Regions from separate parts of the Homo sapiens genome. Here region 2 is linked to region 1. Evidence: fine-mapped expression QTL. A gene starts in region 1. The other region holds a variant in brackets. All regions are shown on one strand. Distances are between the middles of the regions.

Region 1 (2,500 bases):
GCTGTGCTTTAAGAGGATCCTCTTCTCAAACTTCCAGTTCTAGAGCCTGATTATCAAAAATAAAAATTCCTCTAGATTTCTCGGACATATTTGGTGACAAGCATTTGCTTTTGTTTGCTTTCATTATTCAATACTTTGGTCTCTAATCTGAACGAGGTCATAGAAGAGGCAGTGTTCTATGGGGGATGGAATTCCTAGAGTAGACTTTGACAAGGCGGGAAGGAGGGCAAATTGAGTCCCGTTGGGTTTGAAGTGGCAGCAGTATCCACTATCGGCGACTTACTGAAGAAAGAAGATAAGATGTTCTAGCTTGGCTGCATCTGCTTTCCCATCAGGGTCCAGCTACCTGCTAGAACAAACTATCACGGTGACCCATGACTCTGCCTTGGTTGAGGTTTGCCCTCAGTGTGGCTGGCTCCCCCATACCTTTGCACATCCCAATCTATCCATCCACCTAGATCTGCTCAGACGCTTTCTCATTCAACTCCCGAGCATTATTTATCCGTGACCTTCCCACATAATATTTCGTAGCGAGGTTACTTACGCAGAGGTCCGATCTCTCTGTTCATCTTCAAGCAACCTGAAGGCAGGCAGGGTCTGCGTCGGATCCAGTTCTGTGCCCCTTGGTAGGCACCCAGGACACTGCAGGCATCAATAAATATCGGTTGGGCAAGTACAGTTGCAGGATGAGGACAATCAATTCTTCCTCAAATGCCGGGAGAGCATCTCCATAGCGGTGCTCTGGGAGCCCGGAAGAAGGCAGGGGAGCGGTGCAGACAGCGTTGTATGCGGGCCGGGGCGGAGGGCTGAGGGCCCGAGCCGGGGCTAGAGGCGCGGCCGGGCCGCCCTCCTCGTGACTCCTCCTCCCCCCTCCGCGGCTCTGAGTCAGGTGATTCCGGCACGTGACGGGGCACCACCTACCCTGCTGCTCTCGAGTAGCAGCTCGGGCGGCCAATAAGCGGCTGGGCTTCGGCTCGGGGCCTATGAGAGCCGGGCTCCGGGGGGCGGGCCGGACTGTGGCGGCTGCCGGGGGCGGTGGCGGTGGTGGCGGCGGCGGCGGAGGCGGACTGGGGAGGCGGCGGCCTGGCTCGGCCTGGCCTGGCCTGTCAGGGCGCGGGCGGCGGCGGCTCCAGCACCATGTCCCTGCAGTACGGGGCGGAGGAGACGCCCCTCGCCGGCAGTTACGGCGCGGCCGATTCGTTTCCAAAGGACTTCGGCTACGGCGTGGAGGAGGAGGAAGAGGAGGCGGCGGCGGCGGGCGGAGGGGTTGGGGCAGGGGCAGGCGGTGGCTGTGGTCCGGGGGGCGCTGACAGCTCCAAGCCGAGGATTCTGCTCATGGGACTCCGGCGCAGCGGCAAGTCCTCCATCCAGAAGGTGAGCAGGGCTGCGCCCAGTCCCCCGCCCCCTCCCCGGTTCTCAGGTGGCCGGTAGCGGGGACGCCCGGGAGGGCGGCGGCCGGGGCCCGCCTGCGCTCCGTCCCTCCGCACTTTCTCTTCCACTCTTGCGAGCGCACAGGCGCGGCCCGCGCGGGGACCCCGACCTCTGTGTCCACGCCCAAGTCAGCTGAAGCCAAGTGGAGCGCTGAAGGCGAAACTGGTTGCCGGGAGGCAGGTGCCCGGTGGCACCGCCCAAGACCTCCGCCCCCTGGGACCCAGCTCCTGTGTCATTTACGAAACTGAGACGTACTCTCCAGTTCTCACTTGGAGAACTTCGTGGACTCCCTCCCCTGGCCCGTTTTGATTTGTTCTCACTTCAGGTGACCTGAGTGTTTCGGGATTCCCAGCAGAGCCCCAGGGAGCAGCGTCAGGAAGAGTTGTGACTAAGACACTGGGCGTTGTAATTCTCGCTACTGATGTGAAGGAGACTTCGCTGTAGCATTACTGGGAATTGGGTAGTGAGATTGCACCCATTTCAGTAGTTGTGGCCTGGTGAATGTAATTACTGGTGCTGTTCCCCCTGTAGGGGTGTGTTTTTAAAAATCTGAGACTTTGAGAATATTTTGCAGACCTAGTCTGTTTGTTTTCACTTTTGGGCCTTCATGAACAAATGGAGGGCTGTACACGTTTGTTTGTTTATGTTTTTGAGACGGAGTCTCTCGCTCTGTCGCCCAGGCTGGAGAATGCAGTGGTGCAATCTCGGCTCACTGCAACCTCCACCTCCCTGGTTCAAGTAATTCTCCCGCCTCAGCCTCCCGAATAGCTGGGATTACAGGCGCGCGCCACCACGCCCGGCTAATTATTGTATTTTTAGTAGAGACGGGGTTTCACCATGTTGGCCAGGGTCATCTCGAACTGCTGACCTCAAGTGATCATCCGCCTTGGCCTCCCAAAGTGCTGGGATTACAGGTGTGAGTCACCACGCTGGCCTACACTGTTTAGTGAGGGTTAAATAGAGGCAAGGTTGACTTCCTCCATCAGCCAAACCCATTATACGCGGAGTGAGCTGGTAATAAAACTAGTATCAGCAGGCACCTGGTCTTTTCACCTCTCCACTCTGTTGC
Region 2 (3,023 bases), 38 kb before region 1:
TGAGTAACTGGTGGTGGAGCCCTGCCCCTCTGCAGTGTGTGGTTTTGTCCTGATATATTTTAAGATTGAGATGTAACTCACCTGTCATAAAATGCCCAGACTTATGATGTGTGGAAACAAAAGAGTTTTCCAGTACAGAAAGTTACTTAGCCTCTCTGGTGCTGTGTAAGCAACAGGTAGTCTTCCCACTTCATTTTTGGTGGTTCTTTCCTTGGCTTGGGTAATTTCCTTGCATGCTCCTTTCTGGAGTTTTCTGTATGCAGCTTTCTGCTCTCTGGTACCCTGTCTTGTAAACTCTAGCAGTCCAGATCTATCTGGACTCTAAACTTCATCTCATCAACTTAAAGTTTGCTGAGATCTGCCTGGGTTCCTGCTTCATGCGCTGTATTCTGTAATCTCCCTCAAGGTAGTACCTGGGCAATCAGATAACTCATCTATTAATAACTGATTCCCTGTCTCTAAGGGTTTACTGGTTTTGTTTTCTGATGTCTAGTATCTTGAAGACCATTCTTTCCTATATGTTGTCCAGTGCTTTTGGCTTTTTCAAGTGAGACAGCAAATCCTATTCTTGTGACCTTATCATGGTCAGAAGTAGACATTTGTATCTATTTTAAAAATAAATTTCTCATATGATTATGATATAATCACCCCAGCCCTAGTCTATAGGTTAGCATTTGAGAATCATTGCTCTAAGTTGCTCTGGACTACTTCTTTGTTTTTTGAGACAGAGTCTCATTCTGTCACCAGGCTGGAGTGCAGTGGTGCGATCTCAGCTCCCTGCAACCTCTGCCTCCCAGGTTCAAGTGATCCTCGTGCCTCAGACTCCCCAGTAGTTGGAATTATAGGCATGTGCCACCACAGCCAGCTAATTTTATTTTTTTTCAATTTTTTTGAGACAGAGTCTCACTCTTGTTGCCCAGGCTGGGGTGCAGTGGCGCCATCTCAGCTCACTGCAACCTCCACCTCCAGGGTTCAAGCTATTCTCCTGCCTCAGCCTCCCAAATAGCTGGGATTACAGGTGTCTGCCACCATGCCCGGCTAATTTTTGTATTTTTAGTGGAGATGGGGTTTCGCCATGTTGCCCAGGCTGGTCTCGAACTCCTGAGCTCAGCTGATCCACCTGCCATGGCCTCCCAAAGTGCTGGGATTACAGGCGTGAGCCACCGTGCCCGGCCTACTGGACTACTTCTCACTGATCTTCAGTCATCCATATACCTGTTTGTATGCCATTGCTTTTCCAGTTCTCTAAGTCCTGAATACCTTCTTCTCTTTTGTTTTTCTTATCCAATCCTTTTGTGTGTGGGGGTGAGGGGAGAGGTCTTCCTCTGTCACCCAGACTGGAGCGCAGTGGCACGATGATAGCTCACTGCAGCCTCAAACTCCTGGGCTCAAGTGATCCTA[T/C]TGGCTCAGCCTCTTGAGTAGCAAGGACCACAGGCGGGTACCACCATGCTTGGCTAATATTTTTCTTATATTTTTGGAGACGGATATCACTCTGTGGCCCGGGTTGGTCTCAGACTCCTGACTTTCTGGCCTCAAGCAATCTCCTGCCTGGGACTCCCAAAGCACTGAGATTATAGGAGTGAACCACAGTGTCTGGCCAATCTTAAAGATTCTTCAAAGTTTAGGCCGGGCGCAATGGCTCACGCCTGTAATCCCAGCACTTTGGGAGGCCGAGGTGGGCAGATCACGAGGTCAGGAGATCGAGACCATCCTGGCTAACATGGTGAAACCCCGTCTCTACTAAAAACACAAAAAATTAGCCAGGCGTGGTGGCGGGCGCCTGTAGTCCCAGCTGCTCGGGAGGCTGAGGCAGGAGAATAGCATGAACCTGGGAGGCAGAGCTTGCAGTGAGCTGAGATCACGCCACTGCACTCCAGCCTGGGCGACAGAGTGGGACTCCATCTCAAAAAAAAAAAAAAAGATTCTTCAAAGTTTAATGAAAATGCTATCTCCTCCTCCTCAGAGTAGCAAGGACTCCACCCTTCTGCTGAGAAAATCACTCCTTCCTAAGTGCTTCTACAATAAATTTATTTTTGTCATAGTAGTTGTTATATTCTGTACTTTATAATAGTTGTTTGCTCATCTCTTTGTAAAATTACTGAGGACAGACACTTTTTCTTGCACAAAATAGGTACTGTATTGTTTTGTATCATACACTAAGGAAATGAAAGAAGACCTTGAAAGGAATAGACCAAGTAATAGAACTAAGCAGTATAGAGAGAATATTTTAGTCTTTGCATAAGGTGGTTTGCAAAGCCTTGTTTTGGTCCAGTAAATCTAGGATTAGGTTAGCAATTAGGATTCATCTTGCTTGGGGAATCTGATTGGATCGTATGTTGAGAAGGATTCTGAGGGCACATTATGGCTCATTGAGAAAGATAGCTATTAGATAATAAAATGTTGGATTGTCTCAGGTATTTTGACTGAACATAGGATATTTTGCAATAATATTAGGTTGATGCAAAAATAATTGCAGTTTTTGCCCTTAAAAGTAATGGCAAAACCGCAATTACTTTTGCACCAACCTAATAGCTAACAAATATATAATACACATCAAGCAGTATTCTAAGCACAAAACACACATCAACTCATTATTTACCCTGACAATCCATTAAGGTAAGTTCTATTAATAGCCCCATTTTGCAGGTAGGGAAACTGAGACATAGAGAAGTCAACTAACTTCCTCAAGTCACACTGCTGGTAATTCTGGCTCCAGACGATTCTGCCATTGTCACTGCTATGTTGCTGTTCTAATGAACATTCCATGTTTTCAGAAACACTGTGGTAGTTAGCATATACAGCTATGCTTCTATGGTATGAAAGGGGCAAAATAGATTTGTTGCTTGCTAATGTGATAATAGACCAGACTTCCCAAATGTCTACCTTAGATTAGAAAGATTTATCTTTCCTGATCCGTATAGTCATGTCTGATCCTTTGTGTTTTATTTCTTTAGGGTCCCTTGCCAGCTCCATCTTTGACCCACTCAGATATCTTGTGGGAGCTTCAGGAGGAGTCTATGCTC

Alleles and levels. Alleles are on the strand shown, and positions count from the first base shown. SD is a standard deviation of normalised expression in the study named.
For the expression in skeletal muscle of the gene that starts at base 1,012 in region 1, T is the low allele of the variant in region 2 and C is the other (small effect, 0.21 SD a copy in GTEx).

Evidence for each region. PIP is the estimated chance that this variant, and not a neighbour inherited with it, causes the effect.
Region 2: its variant is the best candidate, but not a certain one, in a credible set for the expression of RRAGC in skeletal muscle (GTEx, PIP 0.63).

The regions. Positions count from the first base shown.
Region 1 is chr1:38,858,284-38,860,783 of GRCh38, reverse strand. It overlaps RRAGC (Ras related GTP binding C), which reads left to right and starts at 1,012. Exons shown (of 7, transcript NM_022157.4): 1 at 1,012-1,374. The coding sequence starts at 1,138. It overlaps RRAGC-DT (RRAGC divergent transcript), which reads right to left and starts at 891. Exons shown (of 2, transcript NR_186075.1): 1 at 545-891. RefSeq lists an enhancer at 793-1,087 and a silencer at 723-1,482.
Region 2 is chr1:38,896,001-38,899,023 of GRCh38, reverse strand. RHBDL2 (rhomboid like 2) reads left to right here. Exons shown (of 8, transcript NM_017821.5): 5 at 2,955-3,023. Among named protein-coding and RNA genes, the nearest start is that of GJA9-MYCBP, 16 kb to the right of the region's middle. The variant T/C (reference allele first, on the strand shown) is at 1,402.